Regions from separate parts of the Homo sapiens genome. Here region 1 is linked to region 2. The links come from fine-mapping of genetic effects on gene expression. A gene starts in region 2. The other region holds a variant in brackets. All regions are shown on one strand. Distances are between the middles of the regions.

Evidence for each region. PIP is the estimated chance that this variant, and not a neighbour inherited with it, causes the effect.
Region 1: its variant is fine-mapped to the expression of SAV1 in whole blood (TOPMed, PIP 0.91).

What each region holds. Positions count from the first base shown.
Region 1 is chr14:50,711,837-50,727,573 of GRCh38, forward strand. NIN (ninein) reads right to left here. Exons shown (of 31, transcript NM_020921.4): 30 at 14,117-14,230; 31 at 7,927-11,836. The coding sequence ends at 11,627. Among named protein-coding and RNA genes, the nearest start is that of SAV1, 51 kb to the left of the region's middle. The variant G/C (reference allele first, on the strand shown) is at 7,531.
Region 2 is chr14:50,659,165-50,674,901 of GRCh38, forward strand. SAV1 (salvador family WW domain containing protein 1) reads right to left here and starts at 9,142. Exons shown (of 5, transcript NM_021818.4): 1 at 8,710-9,142; 2 at 6,015-6,455. The coding sequence starts at 8,803. RefSeq lists an enhancer at 8,140-8,209 and silencers at 8,570-8,699, 8,810-9,379.

The sequences.
Region 1 (15,737 bases), 53 kb after region 2:
AGAGTTACTACTGGGAACAATGGAGAAAGGAAAGCTAATAATGTAAGATACTAATTGTAAGAAAACATCCTGAGAAAGTGAGAAGGGACAGGATCTAGTTCACAAAGGCGTTTGGCCTAGGGAGCAAGGGCAGTTTATTAATTACAAATTATTAAGAGATGCAGGAAGTGGGTAGAGTTGGTGGTGGTTAAATGAGTAGTTCTCTTATGAGAATCAACTTACTGAGAGTAAAGACGAATTGGAGGTATTGGAGATTTGAGTAGGACATATGAAACCATTATCTTGGATAGTGAGAAGCTTTCCTTTTTTCTTTTCTCTTTTTTTCTTTTCTCTTTTTTCTTTTCTTTTCTGACGGAGTCTTGCTCTTTTGCCCAAGCTGAAGTGCACTGGCGTGATCTTGGCTCACTGCAACCTCTGCCTCCTGGTTTCAAGCAGTTCTTCTGCCTCAGCCTCCTGTGTAGCTGGGATTACAGGCGCCCGCCACCACACCCAGCTAACTTTTTTTTTCTTTTTGAGATGGAGTCTCGCTCTGTTGCCCAGGCTGGACTCAGTGGCACGATCTCTGCTCACTGCAACCTCTGCCTCCCAGGTTCAAGTGATTCTCCTGCCTCAGCCTCCCAAAATAGCTGAGACTACAGGCGTGTGCCACCACACCACACTAAAAATTTTAGTATTTTTATTAGAGACGGGGCTTCACCATATTGGCCAGGCTGGTCTCAAACTCCTGACCTTGTGATCTGCCTGCCTCGGCCTCCCAAAGTGCTGGGATTACACGGGTGAGCTATTATGCCCAGCCAATAGTGAGAAACTTTCTAAAAGCTGGGCGTCATGGTGCATATCTGTAATCCCAGCTACTGGGGAGGCTGAGGCAAGAAAATCCCTTGAGCCCAGGAGTTTGAGGCTGTAGTGAGCTAACATTGTTGCGTTGCACTCCAGTCTGGGTGACTATGAAATCCTGTCTCTTTTTTTTTTTTTTTTTTTTTTTTGTAAAGTAATGGAATTGTTAAGCAATGTTGAAATCAGTGATTATGAATTTAAAGTGAGGCCAGTTGGAGCAGCTGACTGTCTTTCTCTGGCCATTTTCAGTTGCTTTGGTGTAATTGCAGAATAGGAAAAGAGTTTAGTTTAACCAGGGTTGGGAAGTTGGGATTGCCATAGGTAAATGTCATAAAGGTAGATAGGGGCAAGCAAAGTGATTGTGTTTCAGGGGAAGTGGCTCTAGTGATAGATCATGGAACATAAGCTGAGTAAAGAGATCATGAGGACATGAGGTAGATGTAAGGCTTAGTGGTGGACAGTGGAAAAGTGGTGGGATCAATGGATAGAGGAAACAAATTTTAGAAGTGAAGAAGAAGAAAGATGGATGTCCAAAGTCTTGGATGCTTGAAATAAAGACCAGAGATAGTGAAATTATTGACAAGGTAGAGTGTGGTCTCATCTTTCTCTCCACAATTCAAATATATCAAATATGAGATATTGAAAGCACTAAGAGTAGTGATAGAGGTAGTAGTGAGAAAAAGACAGTGACCCAAGTTCTAAAATCAGTGAGGGAGGTGGCCAGGAGGTAGGTAGATGACTGCAACAAGGAATGTCTAATCTGTTTCTAATTATAGCCTACTGCTTGGGATTGATCTGTTGGAAAATCAGTAGTAATGAGGCTTGAATTTGTATATTATATACAAATATATAATATGGAAATGTATATATTATACTGTAATATACAAATGTATATATTCTCTCTACATATATATTATATATCTCCCTGTCAGTGGTATCATAGCCATGAGAGGAATGGCCTGAGCAAAGCACACAGCAATCTTGGCTCATTTACAGATTGCAATGGACAATTTACCAGCCAGTGAAGTGATCACCTTGTGGGCTAAGGTGGAGAAAAGATGTCTAACTAGGGGAAGGGAGTGGAATAAAAACCCTGTAGTTAATTTTGTACTTTGTACTTCTAGAAAGTATAAAGAAGCTTAAATAATCTTTTCAAAGGAAATCTTCAAAGGTGTACTCATTTGTTGTCTACTACTTGTTTGGGGGTTCCTCTTATAGGTTCCACTGTGAATCGCTATTCCTAAGTAGATGGGAACATCTGTAGAAAACTCTTTGTGCCTATGTCCAGATCATACTGTTCTGTGGGCAAAAACCTCGTGGCTTCTTTTCTAAAGCCCCCATTTTCAGACACCTATTGGAAATCTTAGGAGCAGTAATGTCAGTTTCTTCTCCCCAATACCACATGTTTACTTCTCCAGTTATCTCTGGTCAATGAAGACAAGCGCAGTCTTATTTCAGGGTCAAAGTACAGCCAATTTAGTACTGCTTGAAAAGTGGAATCCAAGGGCTGTCACCCTGGGCATCAATATAAAAATAAAATTGCTGCATTTAATTAGCTTCCACCACTGCAGGCTACTGCTGCTGCTTTCTCTCCCCCGCAAGATTCTACCACTTTTTCTTTCCCCAGGTGGATGTATCACGTTTAAACGTGAAAATTGCCCTGTTCTCTTCAGGAAACCAACCGTAGAACTAAACTCTACCTTTCTTGGACTTCATCTTTTCTAGAATTGCATACATCTTGTATCTTCTCTAGGGTCAGGCTGGAAAATCAAGACCACTTTATCCTTCCCCGATATCCAACTAATTCTAGGTCTCAATTAGGATAAGGTTTGGCTGCATATAATAAGAAAATCCAAAATAATAGTTACTTAAACAACTAAAAGTTTATTCCTTTTTCGTAAAGTCCAGAAGGAATTGAGGCCTCACATGATAGCTAAATGAATTTGTCAGAGATCTAGGCTCTTTCCAGCTCTCTACACTGCCATCTATAGGAGGTGGCCCTCATCTTTATGGTCCAACATAGTTGCTAGATCTTCAATCATCATCTTCACTCTAGGCAGTAGGAACAAAAACAGGTGTATTCCCCCTCTTTATTTTTGGAGATGGGGTCTTGCTCTGTTGCCCAGGCAGGAGTGCAGTGTAGTAATCATAGCTACTGCAGCCTCAAACTCCTGAGCTTAAGGGATCCTCCCACCTTAGCTTCCTGAGTAGCTAGGACTGCAGGCACTGTGTCTGGCTAAATTTAAAAAAAAAAAAAATTTTTAGAGACAAGATCTCACTATACTGCCCAGGCTGGTCTCACACTCCTGGGCTTAAGTGACATTCCTGCCTCAGTCTCCCTAGTAGCTGGGACTATAGGATTATGCCATCATGCCAGCTTATCCCCTCTTTTAAGAAGTCTTCCCAGACCTCCTGCATATCAGTGGCCAAAACCTAGTCACATGGTCACATCTAGCTGCAAAAGAGGCTAGAGAATATAGTCTTATAGCTGGGTAATAACATGCATGGTCAAATTTCAGCCTTCTTTTTTTTAAGGAGGAAGGGGAGGATGGTTAACTGGAAGCAACTATTTGTCCTGCCTTTTCCTCCTACTCAATACATAGACAACATAGCAAGAGATACTGTTGCCCTTTGAGAAGCCAAACAGAGTTTAGTATGGCTAAATTCACTAATTATTACTTTATGAATTAATCAGAAGGTATTCTTAAGAATTTAAAATCTTAAGTATTCTCACCACAAAAGTGATAAGAATGTGAGGTTATATATGTTAATTAGCTCAATTTAGCTATTTCACAATGTATATGTATTTCTTTTCTTTTTCTTTTTTTTTTTTTTTGAGATGGACTCTTGCTCTGTTGCCCAGGCTGGAGTGCAGTGGTGCGATCTCGGCTCATTGCAAGCTCCGCCTCCCGGGTTCACGCCATTCTTGTGCCTCAGCCTCCTGAGTAGCTGGGACTACAGGTGCCTGCCACCATGCCCCGCTCATTTTTTTTTTTTGTATTTTTAGTAGAGATGGGGTTTCGCCATGTTAGCCAGAATGGTCTTGATCTCGTGACCTCGTGATCCGCCCGCCTCAGCCTCCCAAAGTGCTGGGATTACAGGTGTGAGCCACCGTGCCCAGCCATGTATATGTATTTCAAAACATTGCATAAGATATATATGTACAATTTTTATTTGTCGATTTAAAAAAGAATGGAGACTTGAGGACATGGGGTGTTCTTAAACAGTAGTGTGACATTCAGTCTTATTTTAGAAGAATCCTATTTGGAGGCTGTGTGGGGAGAGCAGGTTGGAGTGGGGCAACTTTAAGAGGTTCATGGTAACCTTGGCAAGTACAGATTTGATGAAATGATGGGGGCGGGGTCAGGGAAAGGCAATTCCAAATCTTGGACTTTCAGATCATTGATTTTTTTCTAATGTCTTGTGATCTTTTTCTTTTACCCACTTCACCATTATGTGAACTACCTCAGAATTGCTTATTTTAAATATCCTGCTTTTTGACCATCATTTAAGAAAAAATATTTCCAACAAATCTACTTTAGCATCTCCACTTCAAAAAAGCCTTTACTCCCAAACACTGACCCTACCAGTTTTCATACACATCAACCATCTGCCCACATCCACCTCTGGTTCTTGCTTATACCCACTGTGACTTGCATGGACACTGTTAAATTTACATGTAGTATCTGGAGAATACATAGGAATCAGGACAAAGGGGTGGGGAGAGGGCAAGGACAAAAGAAGGAATGATATGAGAAATAGTGCTAAGATGAGTGACCACACTTGTCACTAGACAGCACTGAATATGGTACTTTTTTTTTTTTTTTTTTTTTGAGAAGGAGTCTCATTCTGTCACCCAAGCTGGAGTGCAATGGTGCGATCTTGGCTCACTGCCACCTCCGCCTCCCGGGTTCAAGCGATTCTCCTGACTCAGCCTCCTGAGTAGCTGGGATTACAGGCGCGCGCCACCATGCCCGGCTGATTTTTGTATTTTTAGTAGAGACGGGGTTTCACCGTGTTAGTCAGGATGGTCTCAAATCTCCTAACCTTGTGATCCACCTGCCTCTGCCTCCCAAAGTGCTGAGATTACAGGCGTGAGCCACTGTGCCTGGCCAGTGCTGAACTTTTCATAATAAACTATAGGTGTATGGTTAGGCTAGCATAAATGGTTTCTAGTGAGTTTTTACTCAGAATACCATCTATTCTTCAGAGTAGCTAGAAGGGCAAGGAAGATTAAGGTGCTTGACACCACACTTAGTACATTTTTTTATCCATAACACTTCAAACATTTTAACTGGAAATCATTTCAAACTTACAAATAGGGTTACAATGATAATACAAATAATCCTTGCTTCATTGCCTTATTTCTCTCACTCTCTCACATTCTCCCTCACACGTGTATGCACATGCCTGGGTAATTTTGTTTCTGGATCATTTAAGAATAAGTTGCATATATCAGTCGGGCATGGTGGCTCATGCCTATAATCCCAGCACTTTGGGAGGCTGAGGCAGGTGGATCACGAGGTCAGGAGATCGACACCATCCTGGCTAACACAGTGAAACCCCGTCTCTACTAAAAATACAAAAAAATAGCCGGGCGTGGTGGCGGGTGCCTGTAGTCCCAGCTACTCGGGAGGCTGAGGCAGGAGAATGGCATGAACCTGGGAGGCGCAGGTTGCAGTGAGCCAAGATTGCACCACTGCACTCCAGCCTGGGTGACAGAGCAAGACTCCGTCTCAATTTTTTTTTAAGTTGCATATATCATAGTCTCTATTCCTAAATACACCAGTGTATACTTTTGTAGAAGATACTTTTACATAAATGCAGTAACTAACTTCAGTATATTTAATATTGATATAATACTGTTTTCTAAGCTACTATCCTTATTCCAATTTTGTCAGTAACTTCAATGTCCTTTATAGCAGTGGCCCCCAAACTCTTTGGCACCAGGGTCTGGTTTTGTGGAAGACAATTTCCCATGGACCGGGGTTGAAAGGGGACGGATGGTTTTGGGATGATTCAAACGCATTATGTTTATTGTGTATCTTATTTCTATTATTACATTGTAATATATAATGAAATAATTATATAATTCACCATAATGTAGACTTAGAGGGAGCCCTGAGCTTGTTTTCCTGCAACTAGACGGTCCCATCTGGGGGTTATGGGAGACAGTGACAGATCATCAGGCATTAATTAGATTCTCCTAAGGAGTGCGTAACCTAGATCCCTTGCATGTGCAGTTCACAATAAGGTTTGCGCTCCTATGAGAATCTAATGCCACGGCTGATAAGACAGGAGGCAGAGCTCATGCACTAATGGGAATACGGGGAATGGCTGTAAATACAGATGAAGTTTTGCTTGGGTCACCTGCTGCTCACCTCCTGCTGTGTGGCCTGGTTCCTAATGCCCAGGAGGCTGGGGACCACCTGCTTTACATTTTCTTCTCCAACACAGAATCTAGTGTAGGATTAGGTACTGCATTTAGTTATCATGTCTACTTAGACTCCTTTAATTTGGAACACGGCCACGTCTTTTTTTTTTTTTGACATTGACACTTTTTAAAGAGTCCCTTTTATTGTTCACAGTATTAAAATACTAGATAACCTGTTAGTACCTGGCACAGGGTTAGTACTTATTTATTGCTTGATCTTGAAGACAGATATGCCTCCAAACAGGAAAGAAAAATGATTGGTAAATGTTCATCTGGGCTGTAAGCACTGTTAAGAGCTGTCTACTTTGCCTTAACTAGTAAAGCATATCCCATGTAATCATTTTTCAGAATTAAATACTATTTTAATACAAGGGTATCCAGCTCTATTTTACATTGTTGCCTACTCATTACAACATTTCACTGATTTAGTTATACAGTTCTCTGCTTTGGAATTTTAACTTTATATGGAATTTTTAAAAAAGTCTGTCAAAACTAGCCATGTCTCCTGATTTGCAAGTGAAGCAACCAAAGAATAGAAAGCACTTCTGGGTGAAATTTAACCTTTTGATCAGGAGATTATATAATAGACATTTCACATAATTTAAGTGAGAATTCCAGTCTTATGGCCAAAACATAACTATTATTATGGGGAAAATGGACATCAAGTACATGTTAGAAAATTACTTCTTATAATTTTGCACAGTAAATAAGACTACAAAACACACAGGCTGCACAAATCTCAATGAAGTGCAGAATTATATTGAATGCTAGGTTAAGGACCTTACCCATTTGACACTAATCTTATTTTGGTGCTCATAGCACAGAGTCCATCAACATTTGATTATCTTCTGTATGGATGTAGATTTTCTAATCTTCTTTTCTGTGTAAATCTTACCACTCCACCACAAACAGATGGCAGGAATGTTTTACACAGTACTTTCTTCAGAGTGCAGTGTACATGGTTGCCATTGAACCAACACTGATAGTTCTGCCAGAAGTAGGAACTGATAGAAGTGTTGCAACACAGGACAAACCTGAGCCTCTAGTCCCAAGTTCCCGACCTAGCTGGCAGTGTGGCCTTGAGTTTGCTAAGCTTCCATTTTCTCATCCATAAAATGGGAATAATGGTAGTTCCTGCCACATAAAGGCAGTATGAGGTTGGTATAAAAGCTTTGAAATGAAATAAAACAGGCTTGTGAGATGGGTCAGTTTGGCCAACATTTCCAATTCTACATTTCAGTGTTCAGCATATTAACATG[G/C]TTTTAGGTTGTTTTTGTGTTTCCAACTGCATATATCTCATCATTCATGAGCTGCTCAATTAAGAAAGTCTGAGCCACCCCTAAAGATGGCAACATGAAATAAAGCCATCTTTGAAGCACCCAAAATCACAAACAGGGCCTTGCCCAAGGTTAAGTCATGATTCTGCAGGTAAACTATGCACTGCCACAGTATACGGGGACCCCAAACTGGCTGGTGTAAAAGTCATCCTTCTATAATAGAAATGGAGTCCCAATGCTCTAAATCCTATACAAATCACTTGGGGAATCTCTTTAAAATGAAGATTCTGATTTAGTAGGTCTGGAGTGCGGGCTGAGATTCTGCATTTGTAGAATGTGTTTAGTGAAATATTTTGATGCTACCATTCTAAAGACCAATGATAAATACACTGAAACTTTATTAAAAGGTCAGGGTATATAGAAAACAAAAGGCATGTTTGCAAAATTATTTATTTACATCTTAAGCTCACATTAAAATCTTTCTAGGATAGAATGGCTAAGATGAAATATACAAAGCTGATATAAACACAGAACTCATTAATCTTTATCTGAACAGAAACATAGAGATGGCTTTAGATAATCTGTTTTTCCTTCACAAACCAATGTTCCCTTAAGTCATGCCATGATAATGTCTCCCCATTAAGAACTTAACTTGTATTGCCCAAAAAAGCTGAGAAGCAAAAAGCTAACTTTGATTTGTTAAACAGCTATTCATATGCCACAAAACCAAAACTATTTTACAGTGCTGAGAGGTCCAGATAGGTCCAAACATGATGATTTTTAAATGAGTGCTTTGGTTAATTAGGCTTTGACTTGGTTTTTGGCATTACTTGTATAATTATATCATTCCAATGAGTCACTACAGGTAATCCATTCAAAACATGACTTGCTTAATACTATCACAAAGCACTTAGCCTTGCCTTGACTGGAAATACCTTTAAGATGCTGACAATAGCAACAATTTCTCCTTTCCTTCACTCAGCAAAAGAAATCACATAAATCACAAAATAAAAAATTCATTTCTCACATGTTAAAAAAGCAAAGTCTGCCATAAACCCTTAGAGAAGAAACAGTTTCTCATAATATCTGCCCTGGGTAATAGTGCATTATTAAAATACTAGACCTGCAAGATCTCTTCCTATGCCTTGGAAGCCTATGACTTCATGATCTATTCATGAAAAATATGCCGAAGGCTAAATATGCAATGCATTGAAATTTCTGGGAAGAATTCACATTTAAAACAGTTTAAAAAATCTGGATTTAGTAAGAGTTTTAGAAAAATAAATAAAACACTGTGGTTCTACTTCTCCCCTTCTACTCTCCCTTCACAAATCTAAGCTTAAGTGCAGGCTTCTAAAAAGCAGAAGAGAGTACAATAGGATGAGAGAGGTGGGTTTTACTATCCACATTTTCCTTTTCTTAGTGTAACGTATTATCTCAAAGGCAAACTTGATTCCCTTTTCTTGAAACGAAGATCCCATCTTCTGAGACGATCTTAAATAATTGTTCTTAAATCAAAAAGTTTGAAAATCAGTGCTTTTAATAAGCAACTAAATGCCTATAAAATATATAACTTAATATTTTGAAGAATGCTATTGTAAAGTTTGAAACAAGATCTAAACATTTTTAAGTTTACATTTAATGTCTTTAAAAGGTCTTTTAAAAGCTATAAGTTCTATTATAAATTGCCAACTAAATTATAAATTGCCACTCACCTTCTCAAAAATTGTTGCACAAATGCATACATTTAAGGTATCTGTATGGTATTTCTCATATTGATCTTTTTCCCAATCTCATAAGTGGGATAAAATGAGAAATTAAGCACCTAGATGTTGGTTAAATTCATTTGAGCAGCATTTTGATTTTGAATAGAGATTCTAAATGTAGTCTAAACTTTCCAGAAAGTCATATTTACATTCATTGTACATTTTATATACACATAAATACAAATTTATAGGAAATAAACAAATTAACCTACACCTCTCATACTGTAAAAGACAAAAATTAAAAATACAACAACCGTGATCACATGCTAAGGCCAGCTATCTGGGAAATATTATTGTTCAGTTCCAACAGCAATAACTTTGAGTAACTTGACACATATCACATAAATACACTACAGGTACTTAGTTTATTTTTGTCCTTAGCCTAGGCCAATCCACAGTTTTAAGTGAAACAATTTTCTGTGAAAGCTAATGCCATACAAGTAGTCAAACACTTACTAGAAATGTCTGCACCACAGAAGAAAGATCTAAAGAAGGCATAATAGCAGATGTCAAATATTTTGAAGTATAATTATAGGGAAGGATTAAAATTAACTCTTTATCCAGGGGGAACTCAGGGCTTTCTGACAAGAGCTGTGCAAAAATTCAAAGGTTTGCTTCATCAGTGTGAACTCCCAGTCCCACAAAAAACAGTGCCTTGTCAAGGCTCTTGTAGTGAGGCCTCCTGGGTTGACCGGTGAGACTCATAAGCCCCCAAGAAACCCTGAAGTTCCCTGATGGAAATTATTTTGTTGAGATTGAGTTTCTGACATGATGACTTCTTGGGCAGTTTGCTTTCTCTTGTGTTCCTGCCCATAAAGCAGTGCTTGATTTTGCTGTTCACCTTTTGTAAATAGATGGGCTTGGCCCTCCAGGAATATATCAAAGCGAACTTTTCGGATTATTGTCTCATGAAAACAAGCAGGTTGTTGTGATGAACTTGGAAAGTGCCCTGCACCTAGTAAGTCTTCCACCAACTGCTGGCGGAAGTGGCTAGCAGAGATTATAATTGGAAGAAAAAAAAGGTTACCGAATCTAAAATGTTGACTGTTCTATAAAGTTTTGATCTTGAGCATGAGTGGAAAGTCCTATTTGGCACTCCTTGACCTCAGGTGGCATGCCAATGATTATCACAGTAAGAAATTCTTAGAATCAGATTTGAGGTATAGAAGGAATAAGAAACACAGAAAATTTTGACCTATATTAAATAAACTCTTCTATAAGTCAGGTTTTTAACCCTAAAATCAAGGCCTTTTTTCCCCCAGAATATTAAATTTACTAAAAACGTAGAAATAAAAATTCTAGTATGGCTGTAAATATATAAGACAAATAAATGAGGTCACATGGTTTATACATTTCAAATTCTTAGAGAGGCCCTACAGTAGTTCAGGAAGACAGTTTACAGTATTGTTCCCTGAGTTCTTGAGGCAACCTCAAGTAAATTTATGAACTCTAAGATTTGAGAGACAGAAAACCTACATGGTCTGCTTATCCCTCTTTTCTAAGAGTAGCTATTTACTCCAAAGTGGTTTGTTCAGTGCTTTCCCTATAGTTCAACTGCTTTAATTATGTGGCTTTATCCGTTTCTTAGAAGACCAGCTCCCCAAATGAAACTTTTAAGAGAAAGAAGAAAAGGCTGTTTAAAGCAAGTAAGCTTTTAACATTAGTTAAGAGTGCAATTGAGTAAATCAGTTCTAAATCTATAATACAAGAAGAGTGGTAATACTGTCACAGGTGTTAGAAGGTTAGAATTCTACAGATTTGGGTTTGTCTGATGTCAGCGGTTAATAACCACTTAATAAGCCCTGCCTCCTAACCAATTATACTCTACTAATTGTCTACCAATTCAAAGAACCAAAACTATTATAATGACTTTCCAGTATTTAAATATGTAAGAACACCTAAATTTGGTTTTAAAATAAAGTTTATAACAACCATTCTCATCAGATCTCAAACTTCAAATATCTAGATTTTACACATAGATTTGTAATAATTAAAAAAAAAACCAAAACCACAAAAACTCATTCAAAACTGGTATTTTTTAGGTTCTTGAATTTTCATATGTCCACATTCTTGGTGGCTATTAAAATTTTAAAATAAATTCAAATCTTGGGAATAATTTAAGTAGTGAAATATGTGAGTATTTATTTTCAAACTCCCATAAGGGTCTATTTAGAAAAACTAATTATGATAAATGGAAACTCCAGTTGTGTTGCTGGCAGTTTTAGGTTAGGCTTAATTTTAAGTTGAGAACCTACTGAAATGTTCATCTATTTCAGTAAAGTGCACAAATATGAGTGTACCCTTTGGTTTGGCTATGACCTCAAAGGAGGTGTAGAAGTCAATGGCGCTGGTGTCAGATTCCTAACTATATTACTGAGGCTGGCAATCTTCTCCTCCAGGAGGTAATTTTTCTTCTCTGCTGTTTTCTGTCGCTGTTCAGTCACTTCCAGAGCTTTCAACAACTGGGCATTTTCAACATACAAGTCCTTCACCATTGCGTCTGCCTTAGTGTTCTTGCAGAGCTAGAAACAGAACCAGAAACATCTTGACTCCATTTCTGTAACTCTTCTTAAACCTTCAGTTTAAGGTCTGACATAAGGACAGTTGTTTTATAAAGGCAAATCACTTCGTCTAATTATATTCTTTTATTTTACAAAATAGCTTTAACATCAGACTTGGCATCAGGGACACCATTGGAACAAATCTACTTTTTCTAAGCTATTTCTTTGCATGAGATGTTTATGTCAGTTACTAATAGAACAGATTGATATTAGATGGCACCAAAAGTTTTTTTTCTACCTAAATAGGCATTATTTCTGTATTTATTCTTTAAAAATATCAAATACTTTTATAACTTAAATTCCTGAGGTGTCAGGTGTGGACTGTTTAACTCTGCTTGTAACAACAGATACTTGAACTTACCATTCGTAACTACAACCCACTGATTATTTTAAAATTTAGCTCATGTATTATAACAGAGATAAGATTTGGGCAGTTACTTCTCCTGAATTGTCTTTGTTTTTGTTTTGTTTTGCATGGGGCCTTGTCTAGTCTAATCTTTATAGTTAGAATATATGGTCTAGGTTGGGGTGGGAAAACTTGTTAGCAGCCTTGGGATACTTTCATTGTTGTTCTGGTTAATATTTTCCAGTCCCCCTTCCCATGTTACAAGTGTTCATTTTACACCCAATTTCAAGTAGGGCATCTAAAAGTATAAAGGTTTATGAGAATAAAGAGTAACTAAAGAGTAGCTTAACAACCTATTAGCATTTCAAAGGGCAGGGATAAGGATGACAGCACTCTCAAGCTCAGAACCTAGATGACTGGCAGACATCACATAACATTTCAGAACATATTTTCTGTTGAACTTCCTGAATACAACTTTTTTTCCTCCCTCCCTCTCTTCCTTTCCTTAAAAAAACACTTTGATGGTTCTTCATTGCCGACAGAATAAAAATCAAGCTTCTTTCTTGGCTCAGCACTGGAGGCCTACTGTCCTGTTCCCCCTTCCTCTCTAGTCTCTCCTCCTGCTTCTCCCAGGACAGTGTGAACTGGCAATGCTGAAGTGTTTATACGTGTCCACACCCCACATGTGGTCATAACTCCATGATGTTCCCACAGCCTAGGATACCCTTCCCCACACTTTCTTAACTAGTTGAAATCTTAACTCTCAAGATGCAGCTTCAGAGGTCTTCAGGAAGCTTTCTTTAAACTCCTGGGTTGGATCAAATATGTCTTTCTCTTGTGTTCTCCTCTACTGAAAACAGGACGGATCCCACTTATTTCTGAACCTACCATTTGGCCAAACGCTTGGCACCTTGTAAGTGCATTCTATATGGGCAGGGGCTTTGTTCACTGTTGTATCCCTGTGCCCACGGCAGGACCTGGCCCACAGTAACTATGTGTTGAATGCTTGAATATGTAAAGAACTGAATGGATAAATGCTCACTGAATGGGACTTTTTCTTCCCTGTGTATTAAGAAACAGGACAACCAAAAGTTGCTGTCTACAGCTGAATTCAGACCCTCTCTTGGGGTTGTTATTCTTAGCTTTTAAGTATCTAAAGAACTAGGTTGGGCATTTTCTGCCCCCCACCCCACATGTTCATCTCAGTTTCCAGAGAGGCTATAACACTCTCCCAGAGGGTAGTACTTTCTGCTTGTCTCTTCAGTGGATGCGCAACTAATTTCTAAACACCAAGGCCACATCTGCCACCAGCAGGTGAAAAGGAGCAGGCTGTTTAAGTGGTCCTGGAATCTGGGGTCTAGATTCTAACTCAAAGTACATCTTTTTGGAGTCTAGCTGTAGCAATAAGATACTTGTTGAGGTTTTCATAAGCTGTTGGGAACAGGAAAGCTAAAGTTCCATTTATTATCCCCCTATTTTTTTAACCAATATCATTTTTCAATTTAAATAGGAATATTTCCTGTCTTGGGCAGAGAAAAATCTGTTGATTCACAGGGACCTAAAGCATGTGAATGGACATGCTTTAGGTCTATGTGAATCAATAGATTTTTTTTGATCTTTAAAATCTTAGGTCCATGTAAATCATGTTAGCAAAGATTTACACTTTTAAATTGTGGACAAACATGCCTTAAACAGAGCTTTGGAAAAAATACAGAGTTCGTATTTTTTGGGGTGATATGAGGGATAGCAAATCCTAAGTTCTTACAGACATTTATAATAGAATTTGCCTTTATTAGACAACATAAGTTAACGAGTTAATGGCAATAAAGGGATGTAAAACTGGAGTTAAAGCTGGAATGTGAGGTGGGTGAACAGAGATGACCGGGTAGGCTCACTTGTTCTTTGAGCTGATTCACTTTCTCTTGAAGAAGCCTTTTCACTAGTTTCAGTTTCTGTTCAACTTCTATCATTCGTTCCTCCATGACAGTTACCAGTTGTTCCTGGTTTCCCTGAAGGGAAGAAAAGTATATTATTCGAAAATCATGTCACACTGAAAACACTGGTTTATTTTCCCCACAAGATGCCTAGAGAAAGGACAGCAAATGTTTTGCCTTTGTAACAGGAAGGATGGATTTCTCATGAAATGAGAGTTTTGAGCCCTGCATGGATTGCATATGTCAGAAAAGTAACCCTATCAGATAAAGGATCAGACTGAAAAATCAAAAGAATCTTACCTGTGTTACCATCATCCCCCTGATATAAAGCAAAATTCTGAAAACCCATAATTTAATACCTGTGAGTACCTCTAGTAAAATGGACATCCAAGGTAACTTGGAAGATCGCTATCAACCTCCCATCTGTGATCTGGGTCTCTGCAATGTTATGGGCCTCTCAACAACAAAACAAGCACTGAATATATTCAGGGTTTCCTAACATAACCAATCAGCTTGCAATATGCATGTCTGTTTTTCCTTTGAAGTGGCTGATGACTGTGAGGGTGGTAAGTTTCTTTCTTCATAATAGCCTCTTCCTGCCAATTTTTCTAGTCATCTGTTTCCCACTTGTAAATGTGAAGCACACATCTGGATTGGAGGATGGGTTTACTATCAGAGCAGATTGAAAATGAAAAATCTCCTGTTCTCACACAACGGTGATGGGTTAAGGAGTAAGTGAGTTTTGGAGAGGAGAGAGACCTAGAGAGATTAGAATGCAATTGACTTATTAGAATGCAACCCCCATCCCTCTGCAGTCCACCAAAATGTCCCCATAAGGAATTTCAGATTTCATAAAGGTATTAACAGCTGATGGTAGTTAAGATATACTTTAAAAGACATGCAGAATGACTAAACATGAGTCAAAGGCTACCATCTGTTTAGATACTAAGTAGTAACACTTAATCATAAAAGAAACCCTAAATCATGTAGTAACTATCCGGAGGATAAAAATTGTAATAGGCAAAGGTCTAATGCAGGAAGTAAGTTACAAAAAATTGGGCCTGGAGGACATCTAGCTTTTAAAAAGGCCTATATTTAAAAAAAAATAATAGCTTTTTAAAGTTCAAACATAAATACAAAATGATGTCTATTTGCCCAACAAAGCAAAACAAAAAAAAAGATAATTCAAAGAACATAGAGTTGGCAAAAGAGTGGAAAAACAGGAAAAACAAAGGCAGTCATATACTTAAAATTTATTTTATTGTTTCATCAAAAATTTCCTGTCAAAAAGATTTGTACATCTTATACAAAACAGTATAAATACCCCTGGTTTTCTTCAAATTCCATATATAAAAGTAGTACCTTTGGTTAAAAATAGTTACAACATATGGAATGAGAAAATATATAGACTACATCCTTTCAAGAATCTTAAATCCACACTCTTTAAAGGGTATAAATAAAATGATTTGTAACAAGCTGATGTTTGTGAATTTGATTCACAAGATCTGTCATTTCTACATAAATAAATAAGAGACATAATACTGCAAAGGTTTAACAGTAAAAATAATAAAATAATTTAAAA
Region 2 (15,737 bases):
TGATATAAAAGAGCCTGGGATGAGACTTCGAAGGCAGAAGTCTACTGTCTCATTAAAACAAGGTCTTGGCTATTCCATGAAATCAAATCTTATTTCAGTGCATGTGTGTTCCAATAAAACTACTGTATTGCAGGAGGCAAGTCTATCTGGCCTATGGGTGTAGCTTGCTGACTCCTGCTGAAGCCTCCCTCATAAAATTAAAAACACCCTCAAGATTAAAATTACGGTAGGGGCCCGAATTTTGATAAAATATTTTCCTTCTCTTTTTCCACCTCCATGTATGACTGCTTGCAAAGTCATTTCAACAAATGGCAGTCACTAATAATTGTCTTCCTGTGGCAGCCCCTGGGCAGGCTGCCCATAAGATTAACAAACCTGTTTCTTTTAAAGAACAATAATCCAGACTGGGTGCTGCGGCACATGCCTGTAATCCCAGCACTTTGGGAGGCCAAGGCAGGCAGATTGCTTGAGCTTGGGAGTTTGACCAGCCTGGGCAACACTGAAATTCAGTCTCTACTAAAAATACAAAAAATTAGCCAGGTGTGGTGGTGCATGCCTGTAGTCCCAGCTACTCAGGAGGCTGAGGTGGGAGGATTGCTTGAGCCCGAGGTCGAGGCTGCAGTGAGCTGTGATCATGCTACTGCACTACAGCCCGGGCAACAGAGCAAGATCCTGTCTCAAAAAAGAAAATAGAAGAGAAGAACAAGAAAACAATGATCCTAGATCACACAGACCCCCTTGATAGTTTCCAGAATTTGGACTGGCCAAACAGGCCAGGCCACTTTGATCACTGGTGATCTCACCTCCTGCAAACTCTTCTGCTAAGCTATAGGTTTAAACAGTAACCTGCCATTTTTTCCCAGCTTTCTTTCCATAGTAACTGGCAGTCACAAACACTACTGTAAAACCTAAGACTGGTCTTCGAGATATTTTTCAGACTTTGCTTACAAGTGGACCAACTGACACCAAATGGACCAGTGTTCCATGAACTCAACCAAGGAACTGACTTGGTCTTGTGACTCCCCAATTTCCCAGCAACTGATTCAGCACATGAAGACAGCATTGATAACCCTATGATCTCATACCAGTCCAATCACCAGCACCCATCCCCTAGCCCCCTGCCTGCCAAATCATCTTTAAATATCTTAGCTTCTCCAGTCTTGGCGGTGATGACTCTGAGAAACATTTCCCATCCTCCTTACTCAGCTGCCTTGCAATAATTAAACTCTTTCTTCTTTACAGTATCTGCTGTCTCAGTGTTCTGCTCTATTCGGATAGCAGACAAGAGCCCAGTCAGGTGGTAACATTGTTTTATAGCATTTTTTGGATACATAATTATTTGCACATGTTTATGGGGTACATGTGATATTGTGATACATGCAAAGAGTATGAAATAATCAAGTCAGGGTATTTAGGGTATCCATCACCGTGAGTATTTATCATTTCTATGTGTTGGGAACATTTCAAGTCCTCTCTTTTAGCTATTTCAAAATGTTAACTGTAGTTACCCTACTCTGCTATCAAACCTTAGAACTTATTCCATCTAACTTTATGTTTGGACCCATTAACCTACCTCTCTTTACCTCCCCTCCCATCCTTCCCAACCTCTGCTATCATTCTATCTCCATGAAATCAATGTGTTTCGCTCCCACATGTGAGTAAGAACATGAGACACTTCTCTTTCTGTGCCTGATTTCCCTTAATATAATGACCTCCAGTTCCATTCAAGCTGCTGCAAATGACATGATAAACATGGGAGTGCAGGTATTTCTTTGATATACTGATTTCTTTTCCTTTAGATAGATACCCAGCAGTGGAACTGCCGGATCATATGGTAGTTCTGTTTTCGGTTTTCTGAGAAATTTCCAAACTGTTTTTCATAGTGCCTGTCCTAATTATTGTAACATTCCCACCAACAGTCTGTAACAGTTGCCTTTTCTTCACACTCTCACCAGTAGTATATTTTTTTGTCTTTTTAACAATAGCCATTCTGACTGGGGTAAGACACCTCACTGTGGTTTTCACTTACATTTCCTTGACGATTAGTGATGTTGCACATTTTTTCACATACCTTTTGGCCATTTGTATGTCTTCTTTTGAGAAACGTCTATTCATGTCCTTTGCCCACTTTTTAATGGGGTTGTTTTTCTTACTGTTGGCTTCCTTGCATATTCTGGATATTAGTCCCTTGCTGGATGAATCTTTTGCAAACACTTTCTCCTATTCAATATGTTGTCTCTTCATTCTGTTGTTTCCTTTACTGTGCAGACGCCTTTTGGTTTAATATAGTCCCATATGTCTATTTGTTTTTGTTGCCTGTGCTTTTGAGGTCTTAGCCATAAAATCTTTGTTAGATCGATGTCCTGAAGTGTTTCCCCTACATTTTCTTCTAGTACTTTTATAATTTCAGGTCTTAAGTCTTTAATCCATCTCAAGTTGAATTTGCATATGGTGAGACAAGGGTCAGATTTCATTCTTCTGCATGTGGATATCCAATTTTCCCAGCATCGTTTATTGAAGAAAGTGTCCTTTTCCCAATGCACGTTCTTGGTGCTTTTGTAAAAAAATCAGTTGGCTGTAAATATGTGGATTTATTTCTGCATTACCTATTTTTGTTCCATTGGTCTATGTGTCTTTCTATACCAATACCATATTATTGTGGTTACTATAGCCTTATTTGTGGTTACTATAACCTTGTATGTGGTTACTATAGCCTTATTTCGAAGACAGGTAGTGTGATGCTTCTAGCTTTGTTCGGTTTGCTCAGGATTACTTTGGGTATTTGGGCTCCTTGTTGGTTCTGTGGAAATTTTAGGATTGTTTTATTTCTGTGAAAAATGACTGGTATTTTAATAGGGATTGCATTCAATCTGTAGATTACTTTGAGCAACATGGTCATTTTAATGATGTTAATTCTTCTGACCCATGAGCATGGGATGTCTTTCCATTTGTTTTTGTGCTCTTCAATTTCTTTCATCAGTGTTTTGAAATCTTGTTATTTATTTATTTATTTATTTATTTTGAGACGGAGTCTCACTCTGTTGCCCAGGCTGGAGTGCAGTGGCGCAATCTCAGCTCACTGCAAGCTCCGCCTCCCGGGTTCACACCATTCTCCTGCCTCAGCCTCCCAAGTAGCTGGGACTACAGGCGCCTGCCACCACGCCCGGCTAATTTTTTTATTTTTAGTAGAGACAGGGTTTCACCGTGTTAGCCAGGATGGCCTCAATCTCCTGACCTCGTGATCCACCCTCCTTGGCCTCCCAAAGTGCTGGGATTACAGGCGTGAGCCACCGTGCCCAGCCTGAAATCTTATTTTTTTAATGACATACTTGAATCTGAAAACGTATGCAATTAACTTGTACTTTATTTTGAAGTTGTGACTGGAAAGTTGCTTTAAAGTCTGTCTTTAAACTTAGAAAAATTATCTCAAATTGCTCCTAAGAGAGGATCAGTAGAGATTTAGTTCTTATAGTATTTCCTCAATTATATTTGGCAAATTAGATTTTCAAAACAAGAGTTTAACTTGTTATTAATTCCTCATATTTACATACTTAAACCTCAGGTAGAAAAGTATTACAAGCTATCAGTGACGTCTACAATATAGGTGGGAAAGGTGAACGCAAAGAATAACACATATTCTATATTAACAGTAAACATAGCTATTTCTGTTCTCCCTCAGCTACCAAAAACTGTCTTAAGCCTCCAGATTTAAAACCGCTGGGTTCATTCACTCATTCAGCCATTTATTTTTGTGAGCATCTCTTAGGCAGTCATGTGCTGTGCTAATCCTATCTGACTCTTCCCTCTCCTTTGTCCTTCAAACCCCGTTAGTGGCCAAGTCCCATTAATGTGGGCGTGTCCCACTTCTCCTCTTTCCAAATTTCTGAAGTATAGGTCAAGTCCTCATTAACCACTGAATATGCACCAAATGGAAGATTACGCAGTCATTAAAACCACTCATAAAAAGTATACAACATGAAGAAAATCATTCAAGTAAAAAGAACAGAAAACTGTACAAAATATTATATAATCACATCCATGTAAAAAAAGAATTTGGCATGGAAAAAGATGAAGAAAATAACATACTAAGAGGATCTCTGGTGGACAGGTACTTTGCCTTTACGTTTCTGCATTTTGCAAATTTCCTGTAATAAGCAGTTATTATTCTAGAAGAAAATATAAATGAGCTTTATTTTTAAAACTTACTATTTTAGTTAGATAACAAATTATTCCTGAGGTTCAGAACTGCATATCAGAAATAACCAAAATAAACACTCAAGCATGCAGCTAATTCTTTAACCTAATTCCTTAAAAACTAAAAGGTGCTTTTACCCATGCCTCTTACTGCATTTCCACATGCCTAGAAAACCTCTCCTCTACAATGTTCCAGTGAGACTCTGATGTCAGCTTTCATAAAATAAGTTGTTCTTACCAACTATTCCACATTATTTTTAAAACTTCAGTGATCTGCTTTCTCCTAAACTCTAATTCTCATTTTTCCTTTAAAAGCATCCTAGATTTGCGTTTTCCTATTACCACTGGTACCCACTGGTACCTGCAATCCTCTTTTCTCTAGGAATCTACCCTTAATTCTAGTACAAAACTAATCTTTAAACACTGCTTTCATAAAATCACTTGTCTTTCCGAAATGTGCAAGAGCTTCCACTTGACTCAAATCTAAGCCTATTGTTGAACCACAAATCTCCACTCAACCTTACATCTTATTTCTTCAAACCAGGCAGAACTACACTGTTCCTTATATTTAAACCATGCCTACTCTGTTTTCATTGTGCTATTCCCAATTTTCCACGTAAAATGTCCTTCTTCTGGCCCTTGTTAATCTAAAGGCCAAGCTCAAGGCCCACTCCAAGTCCTACCTCTTCCATGAATCATCTCTTTAAGTATTCCAGCCTATACTCATCTCTCTTCTGATTCCCTGTTGCACTTACAGTTAGTATCACAAAGTATAACAATTTTTCTGTGACCATTGTGTATAGATTGGTTTTGTTTCCACAAATAAGGTACTAGACAAATAAGGTACCAGAAAGCAGAGACCAACAGACCCAAGGAAAACGCTAGACACATAAACAGTTAATATTAAATGAATAAATTTTTTCTACAGTCAAAATACTAATGCTCCAAACCATTTTTAAGTCGCCTTATTTGAAGTTATGTGAGCCAAAAAGTAAATCTGTCTCACATTTTATTTTTATCCTGCCAAAATTTAAAGTCTATAACTTGGTAGAAAAAAAAAATCAGACAAGAAAGTTTAATTTTCATCTCACTTCATTTTATCTGGTAAAACCAGGACTTCAGGAATAAAGTAGAATTGTACATTTCTCCCATCTCTTCTGCTCCTTTCAGAAGTATCTCCAACTCAGGAGATATGGAAAGTACCTTCTTTTCTTAAATTATATGGTAATTTTTTTTGTCTGTTACAAAAATAATAAAAAGACATGCTCAACACATAATTAACCATATGACAATAAGTCTTTTTGATCAACTCAGGAAATAATTCTTGAACTACTTTTTGTTGAGAAAAAGGGCAGGATCTAGCGAAGTAATGTGGTTGCTCAGGGTATCACTGAGCATGCCCAGTTGTTCCTACTCTTCTTTCCTTTCCCAAGTTTGTCAAGTGTCTCTGAGGACTCCGTCAAGTGTCTCTGAAGACTTACCCTTCCCATTATTCTACCAAACCTAAACCTAAATTCAGCCCAACTGGAGACATTAAATTCTCTAGGTTTTCAAGGGTCACAGCATTAAGAGTCTAGACAGCCTTGAGATAAATACCAAGTTTACATAACATGAGTTAATAAAATAAATGGTCACAAGGACTCTTCCATTCAGTGTAGATTAACAACTATTTGCACACAGGCTTAAGCAGGATGAGCAAAGTGGAAAAACATTTCGCTAGTAGTATTTGTTCGTGTCCCAAGAAAATCTAGAAAAGAACATCTTTTTAATTGACATGTCAATAAATATAAACTACTATATTATTTATAATGTTAAGCTACCTGAAGCATGCCTCCCCTGATTCTGTGGCATTCTTTGGAAGAGATCATGGTTGTATTCATAATATCTGTAGTCTTCATGTGCACGATCTCCAAGTGGCCGCTTTCTCTGACCATCAAAAAAATTGTCTGAATAATAATATCGGGAACCAGAGTCTCCATTTTCAACAGCAAAACTAACTTCCGTTACAAATGACTGAGAAGAACCATACTCTCTAGGGACATCTGCTAGACTTCTGGCAAGATAAGAAGGTGCAGATAATCTGTTGCTTTCTCTTCTCATTATTTCATGAGGTGTTCTTTGAATTGGAGTTCTAAGGAAACTCTGGTTTCTTGAAACTACATCTCCAGAAGTTGAAAAGGCATTAGGGCTTGAATCTGGAAGACAGATATCAGTTCGTCTTGGAATTGTTGGACCATGCCGGATGAATGAAGGCATAAGATCTACAATAAAACAAAGGATAAAATTACCCTTTCATCATTAAGTAACAAAAGTTTTCGAAATTTGTTCATTTATGTCTACCACCCCAAAATCAAAATGTCAGTCAACTTAAGAAAACACAATTTTAAATTTTGGTTTAGGATGGTACTTGGGCATTTTAAATTGAGGAAGATTAATATTTTCCCAATCAAATGAATTTATATAACTTGCATTAATGGACTATGCGTAAAAGCTCAGCTAGAATAAAATGTATTCTGCATACTACCATACATAATATGATAAAATATCAATAATCTTATCTATGAACTACACATTAATGAAATGCTCATGAATTAATGTATAAAAATAGGAAATAATATAACAAATTGATAGTTTCTAGTTAAGTAGTTTATTTTGTTGTTCTCACTTCATTTTAGAAACTGCCAAAAATCCTTCTTGAAGCAAACACAATTTCAAAAATAGAACTTAATGCTACTCCCAAATATGTAAAAGTGGATTCCTTTAAAAATTAAAAAATTAGTAGCTCTTTCTTCTCTTGGAATTACCTAGCACTAGCACAGTAATCAAAAGCTAGAAAGCCAAAAATTTATGTATGAAAATTGAAAATAAAAAGCTCTCATTTCAAAGAAGCACACAAATGTAGAAGTGGCTCAAAAAACCAAGCCTGAAACTATGTAATTATAATTCAAAATAGTAGATAATAGAACAACAGCTTTTAGGATACAGTACTTTTAAACACGAAACTTGAAAACAGCTTAAGACATTCCCAGTTAGAAAGCAAATACCTTTAAAACAAGACAAAAACCTGAATATGCAGACCCTCTTATTATTCATCAAGTAAACAATATTGGAGACACTCATATTAATAAGCTTCAGAAACTAACACTGGACAGAAACAAATATCTGAATAAATAAGGCTCAACACTTGATGTAACGACAACAAAACAAAGTAGATCAAAAGTTATTTGCTTAACTGTGACAAACATTAACAAAACTGCACGTTCTACACATGTACCCCAGAACTTAAAGTATAATAAAAAGTGTGACAAACATAATTCACGATTTCAAGTAATGTCTGATAAACTTTATTTGCAGCAAACAGCAAGCTATCACTTAAAAACAGCCAGAAACCTAACTGCATGTGTGACTGAAAATCAAGTTGTTAAAAAAAAAAAAAAACAACTTAAAAATCAAGTTTCGAGTTACTGATGTACTCAACTGACATATATTTTGTTGAAAGTATTGCAAGTACCACCATAAATCTGGAAGGCTGACAATGTGGTTATGATGGAAAAACATGCTCTCCCATCTGTGTGATCTTGGGCAAATACTAGAAACCTAACTTTCCCAATTACAATATGAGGTAATACTTAAGTCACAAGGTTACTACCAGCTTCCAAGAAGGAAACTTAAGCAAAGGGCCCAGGGCGCAGTAAGAGCACCAAAATACCAGCTCCATGCCTCACAAATGTCCTGAACACACAAGAATTAAAAATTCAAGAGATTCAACTCAAAAATCAAATACTTACATTAAGAAGAAAAGCAGCGGGGGACCGGAGGTGGGGATTGGGAGTGGGATCTACCCTATTAAAAAAAAAAACTTTTCGAGGGGGGGGTTCTCTAATACGATAGAAATTATTTTGAGTTGCCTTCTTGGAATCTCACGAATATAGCCAAATACAAAGGCTTTTGGCTCTCTGCTCTGCTGTGTAAGAGTGATGAGGCTTTGGGTGGCGGCTACAAGAACGACGGTATGCTTTTCACCTTCTCAAGTCTGCATCCGGCAGCAGGACTAAGGAATTCTGCCCCAGAGTTCGCACAACTTGCAGCACAGTCGAGAGACACCCGCAATGTTTGCAAACATGACGCACATCTCGACGCATCTAAAAGAGTAAAAAGTGTCCCTGTCTAATTACTTTTACTCCTATAGCATTAGGTGATAAGCAATTTAAATGTTTCCTACTCTCTCTTCCAGTAATCAAAACCAACAACTCTGCCTGGTGGGGCGAGGAAGTCTGTTATTTTTAGGGGGTGCTCTTGGGGGGGTTAGGCGCGGGGGGGACTAACCCAAGTTTCTTACTCTTATGGGCTTTCAATCAACGAATACCACTTCAGACACAAGAAAATCTCAAAACCAGTATTTCACGCGACCAAGGACGAAGGAGAAGCCCTGGAGACCCGCCGGCGCCCCCGCCAGGGTCCCCGGAGCACCTGGCCGCCTGGGCCAGGTGTGGGCACGCCCCGCCTGACACTCACTCCGAAGCAGAGGCGACGTCTCCTTCTTCACGTACTTCCCCTGCACCTCGGCCGGCTTGGACACTTCGTTTTTGGTTTTCTTTCGGGACAGCATCCTTCTCGACGAGGCCCGAGGCCGCGCTGAACTGCCTCCCTAGGGCTCCGCGCCGGGCGCCGGCCGTCTCCGCCGCCACCTCCGCCGGCGCCGCCGCCTCCTTCCCTCCCGAGCCGCCGCCTCCGCCGCCGCCTGTCCGGAGCCCGGGGTCGCCCGCAGGGACTGCCGCATGTTCAGGGCGCTAAGCGCGCCGGCCGCCGCTCAGTCGCTGGTCAGTTCCTTCCCGGAAGTCGGCCCGCTCTGCGACGCTGCTCGGGGACGCCGTGAGGAAAGCCCAGCGACGCCGGGCCAGGGCCAGGGCCATGGTCCGCCGCGGGCCGCCGAATAACCGCTACCACTACCGCCGCCGCCGCCTACATCCCGTAAACTTTCCCCGCGGCCGCTGGGAATTCTGGGAAGCTCGACGCAGCGCGGGCCGCCGCTGCCCCTCCCCCACCGCGGCTCCAGGCGCGGCTCCGGCGGCGGGACTCGGGTGCCGGCGCTCTAGGCTACCGGGCCGTCCCCGCCGAGCTGCGGCTGTCCTCACTCATCCTCAGCGAGAAGCAGGTCCTGCCGACTGAGAAGATGAAGGACGAAACCTGCCCCGCTGAGTGCGGGAGTTCGTCGCATGCGCATGTCGTGGAACCTACTCTCCACGAGTTTTTATTGTTGTTGCTTTTGTACCCCCTCGGGATCCCTAGCGGAGGCAGTGACTCTCTTTCCCCCCAAGACGTTGTTCCCTGTTTGAAGGTGTTCTTCCTAATGTTTCCTAGGCTGCTGAATTCAGCTCTCTAAAAAATGCGGAATGCTAACCATGACTCCCAGGCAAGTGCTACACCAAAGCATCTATTCTGCTGGAAACGTTCATGCTGATTAACTAGAAATAAGTTGATCCTCTACTGAGTATCAGGGAGTGCGTTTTTCTATAACAGGAAAAAACGGAAGAATGCAAGATGGAATTTCCAGTACCTCTTTTTAAGATACAATTGGTGTTAGCATATTACAATTATTTTATTGCATCATCACTATCATTAGTATGATTAATAGCCACATATTTCCTCCTGACGTTATGTGTTATGATCTTAGAATTTTGAAGACTTTGACCACTGCGAGTCGGGACCGGGAATTTTCTATCTAAAATAATAGACTCTACTTCCTTCTATATAACTTAGCAAGACTGCCAAATGTACAGGATAACATTTGGAAAATAAGATTGGATTCATCCCCTAGTGACCAAATTAATGCTTTAATAATGAGGAATGCTTTCCCTGAGATCTAAAACATCTCACAAGAGATCTAAGACATATATCACAATTAACAAAAGACATGGAATTTTTTACCACGTAAGATTAAGAAGATGGTCAAATGTTTTACCATGAGCAAACAAAGGAGACATTTGATCTAGTGTCTGTCTCCATATGTTCCCTTGGTGCAGATCTCCCACAATTCATTCATTAACCAGGAAATACTCATTACCCACTGCGCTAGTCGTTTGTGATAGAGCAATAAGCAAAACAGACAAAAATCCCTACTGTCATGGGAAAGAGAAAAAAATGACAAAAAATAAGCAAAACATACTATGTTAGATAGTGATAAGTGATGAAGTGAAAATAAGAGAGGACTCACAATTTTTGAGAGGGTAATAGAGGGACCAGAGAAGGCTCATGAGGAGGTGACATTGGAGTTAAGTGACAGAGTGAGGAAATTGGCCATGCAGCTAACTGGAGGAACAATATTCCAGGCAGAAAGAACAGCAAGTGCAAAGTCGCTGCAAGTGGCCATGTTCCTGGCAGATTGGAGGAACAGTAAGAGGGTTTATGTACTGGAAAAGACGGGGAGACGAATGGGGAATGCAGTTAGAGAGTAACAATAGCCACGGCACCTAGGGCTTTGTAGGCCATTGTAAGGAATGTTACTTTGAGCAGAGGAGTGACATGATCTGAGTTAATGTTTTCATAGGACTGCTTTGGATGCTGTGTGGAGAGTAGACAATGGAGCTAAGGGCAAAAGGGAGATCAGTCAGAAGTTATTGCTGGCTTGGACCCAGGCAATAATAGGTGGAGAGGTAAGTGGACATATTTTAGACATATTTTAAAGAAAGCCAACCAAATTTGCTGACATTGAATATGGAGTGTGGGAGTATCAATCACTGCCATGGGTATGAAAATCTTAATAAACAGAATTGGAACTCACTAGAAGCAGAGTGTACTCTGAGAGAAACATTAGAAAAACAGTTACTTGTTCCTGTGGTTCAGAAATAAGGACGAGTCCTAAAGCGTTGATAGTGTGCAGGGAGAAGAAAGAGTGATGAAACTTAAGTGAGAGCACAATGGGGTTTTGTTACACATCAGGGTATGAAGGCGGGAGCTGAAGGAGGAAGGGGGAGCCAAAGAAGTGCCAGGTTTCTGCCTAAGGCTTACCTCAGAGAAGGACAAAAGGATATTAGCATCTTGTTAATAAAGGCAACTCTTCACACCTGGAGTTTTCCCAGAGCCTGAAGTACGGGGACACCTTTCACATGTGCGGAGGAAAGAATCCTAGAATTTTATAGTTGAAAAAGAATTCTGAGATTGCCTAGGCTCACCTCATCAACATCAAAAAGGAACGAGAAAAATTAAGTGTTTTGTCTCAGATTACATTCCTGGTTAATGACAGAATAGCATCAGAACTGGAGTTTTCAATTCCCTTTTTTTCCCCCCTGAGGCAGAGTCTTGCTCTATCCCTCAGGCAGGAGTGCAGTAGCACTATCTCAGCTCACTGCAACTGCTGCCTCTCAGGTTCAAGCGATCCTCCTACCTTGGCCTCCTGACTAGCTAGGATTACAAGCGCCCGCCACCACACCTGGCTATTTTTTGTATTTTTAGTAGAGACTGGATTTCATCATGTTGGCCAGGCTGGTCCCGAACTCCTGGCCTCAAGTGATCTGCCCGCCTCGGCCTCCCAAAGTGCTGCAATTGTAGGCGTGAGCCACCAGGCCAGCCTCAATTTCCGTTTGGGGCTCTTTACTGCTACGGAACATTCAGAATCCCACTAATGTGAGTCCAGACTGTTTCTAACAGTTGTTTTGAAAGCCGTCTGTGTTCCTTAGAGAGTACTCCCTTTTACAATGCTATTTAATTTCTGTGGATTATAGCAGAGAGAAAGCCTTAATTAGGTGCTCTATTTAAGACAACTAATTTGCCTTTTTATCAAGGAGGGTACATTCCAGAATCAACAATGTGCAGGCAGCATTAGCTATAGCAATGCACAACAAATATGTGAACTTTGAATTTGAATCCTTAAATCTAAAAGCTTTGAATTCATGTTTGTTTTCTAGAAATTCCTTGACTTCTGAGAATTTTTATTAAGGAATTCAGATTTGCTGTAGTTCTACGGAGCTGTAATTCTCCAGACATTGCCTTCAATAATGCTAATACTGCATTCCATAATAGAGATTTTTTTTTTCCCCTTACAGTTACATTCTTAGTGGAGAAAACTGGCAATTAGGGAGCTTCTCATGTTTTAACAACTTTTTTAAAAAATTAATTTAGTATTAAAATTTATTTTAGTGGAGCCTATAAGGTATGACCCTGGGCTAACCTCATAGCATTCTGAGTTCTTAGTTGTCTCATCTGAAAATGAAGAAAGTGAACCATTTGTTTTTTTTTTTTTTTTTTTTTTGAGACAAAGTCTTGCTCTGTCGCCCAGGCTGGAGTGCAGTGGCATGATCTCGGCTCACTGCAAGCTCCGCTTCCCGGGTTCAGGCCATTCTCCTGCCTCAGCCTCCCTAGTAGCTGGGACTACAGGCGCCTGCCACCACACTCGGCTGATTTTTTGTAGTTTTAGTGGAGACGGGGTTTCACCGTGTTAGCCAGGATGGTCTCGATCTCCTGACCTCGTGATCCACCCACCTTGGCCTCCCAAAGTGCTGGGATTACCGGCGTGAGCCACTGTGCCCGGCCAAACCCTTTGATTTCTAAAGTGTCTTTCAGTCCTGGAGTTTTCTGCCATGTAGGCAGAAGGGAATATGCAAAAATAAAAACTTACCTTCATAGGATAAGAGAAATGTTGGTGATTTTCTTTCTTTAAAAAGTTTGTTCTTTATTCAAGTATTAAAGAAAATATTAAAATATCAGCATTATATAAAATCATGATTAGCATAAAAATAAAATTTCGTGCCAGATTGTTACTTTCAAAGACAGCTAAGGTCTTTATGCTATGTTGACTTCCTCGTTGGAAGCATGTAAAATTTTAAAGGGTGAACTATTCAGTGAAAGATTATCCAAGAAAGACAACCAAAATGGAAATAAGCCCTACATATGGCGCCTCAGAAAAAAAAAAAAAAAAAGGAAAAAAGGAGAGGAACTTCTAGTCTACTCTCCAGCTCACTCTTCTTCTTCACATAACAAGATAAACTTAATCTGTCTCAGGAAGATGTAATAATTATGCCAATTATAGCTCTTCAAGTCTCCAAAATTTTGCTATTAAAATATGGGAGGGGGCTGGGCGAGATGGCCTGCGTCTATAATCCCAGCACTTTGGGAGGCCAAGGCGGGTGGATCACCTGAGGTCAGGAGTTTGAGACCAGCCTGGCCAACATGGTGAAACCCCATCTCTACTAAAAATACAAAAATTACCGGGGTGTGGTGATGTGTGCCTGTAATCCCAGCTACTCTGGAGGCTGAGGCAGGAGAATCGCTTGAACTAGGGAGGCAGAGGTTGCAGTGGGCTGAGATCGCACCACTGCACTCCAGCCTGAGCAACAGAGTGAGACTCTGTCTCAAAAAAATAAAAAATAAAATATGGGAGGGTAAATTCCTAAGTGTCCTTTAGGCAGAAACTTTGGTTGTTTCCTATGAAGGATAAGGGTGTGTAATGTCTACACAGATCTGAAGATATTATATAATTGCTTAATATTAGCAATTTAGTAGGGTTCCTAAACTCCTGTTATGTAAGATGAATCATCCCCCCAGTAACATAAAGAATTAGTATCACAATTCTTTTTTTTTTTTTTTTTTTGAGACGGAGTCTCGCTCTTTCGCCCAGGCTGGAGTGCAGTGGCGCGATCTCGGTTTACTGCAAGCTCCGCCTTCCGGGTTCACGCCATTCTCCTACCTCAGCCTCCCGAGTAGCTGGGACTACAGGCGCCCGCCACTGTGCCCAGCAAATTTTTTTTTTTTTTGTATTTTTAGTAGAGACGGTGTTTCACCATGTTAGCCAAGATGGTCTCGATCTCCTGACCTCGTGATCCACCCGCTTTGGCCTCCCAAAGTGCTGGGATTACAGGCGTGAGCCACTGCGCCCAGCTTAGTATCACAATTCTAATCAAAAGGAGTCAAGCTGGGAGATTCGGTGTCTCTGAGCTTAGCTTTTGTTCTTATGTACTGTTATTGCCTAGACTTAGAGGTCCTCTGAAACCTTGACAGAAAGCCAAAATGAGTCTTCTATTTTTGGCAGCACTGGCCTCGGACTTCAGTTGTCTGTCCTTCTGGTTCTTTCTGTATCTTGACTTCTCTGACCCTAGAAACTTTTATTTTGCTTCCAGAATTGGGCCGTATCTTCAGCCACTTTCAACTTTATTTTTAAACTATTCTTTGCAATTATCAGTTTTTACTTGGCTTCGTGATGTTGTGAAATATATATTTGGTCTTCATCTGTTTCCTGACATAGAGTTCTTAAACCCTTGTAATCTCCAGAAGAGTGTCTTTTGTATGCTAATGAGATGACTGGTGGCTAGATAGCTTCAGAATAAGGGCTGGTCACCCAAGAAAGACCAAAGTAGGATTAGAGGGTGGGGACTTTCAGCCCCACCACCAACCTTCTGGGACGGGAGAGGGGCTGAAGGTTAAGTTGACCACCAATAGCCAATGATGTATTAAGTCATTTCTACATAATGGAGCTTCCATAAAACCACAAATGACTGGCTTTTGAGAGTTTCTGGATGGCTAAACACACAGGTTCCTGGAAGCTGCCATTCCTAGGGAGGGCATGGAAGCTCCATGCCCCTTTTCCCATACCTCTCCCTATGTGTCCCTTCCATCTCGATGTTCACAGGTATCCTTTATTCTATTCTTTTTAGTAAACTGGTAAACACAGTTTTTCCCTGAGTTCTGTGAGCTGCTCTAATAAATTAATAAAACCCAAGAAGGGAGTTGTGGGAACACCAATTTATAGCTGATGGGTCAGAAACACAGGTCACAATGTGGGGCTTGCGATTGGCATCTGAAGTGGGGCAATCTTGTGGGACTAAGCCCTCAATCTATGGGATCCTATCAGGTAGATTGTGTTAAAAATTGAATTTAATACATCTATTTGAAATAGTTTCAAGGAAGAAGTTTAAACAGAACTTCTTCAGTAGAGCCAGAATGTAAAAAATTAAGAAAAAAATGGAAATGTCCCATTCCATGTGGAGACTGGCCACATAAATATATCTCCTCTCCCTCCTGGAACCCCAGTTAATTGACAGTGAAAGAATATAGAGAGAATAAACTTATAATTATTATGAGAACACAAAATAGGCCATCAGATCAGTAGATGTGACATTAATAAATGTCTAGAAGATGAAGAGTGATAGGGTTGCAAGAGGTGGGAGGAGATCAAGAGACAATGAAGCAGGATGAAGTATTTTAGTTCACAGCCTAAGATGCTCATGGAAGCACATATTGCCAAAGGCCGAGGCGAGGCTTGGGATCACGTGCACCTGGTTTAATTAAGGAAGATAGGACACTAACGTGGAGCCGAGAAGAGCCATTAATTGAAAGTTAGACGTACACCCCCATAGAATTTCAGGTGTTAGGCACCTATTCCCTTGAAAAGGGATATTCAGGTTCTGTTTTTGGATAAATTAAATGGCCCTATGATAAAAATTTTAGCATTCTGACATTTGTATATCCTACAAACCAAAGAACTAAATCTCATAGAGCAGCGTCCGGGTAGTAGGCCCTGATCCCTCAAATAGCACACTCACAAGTGTTTG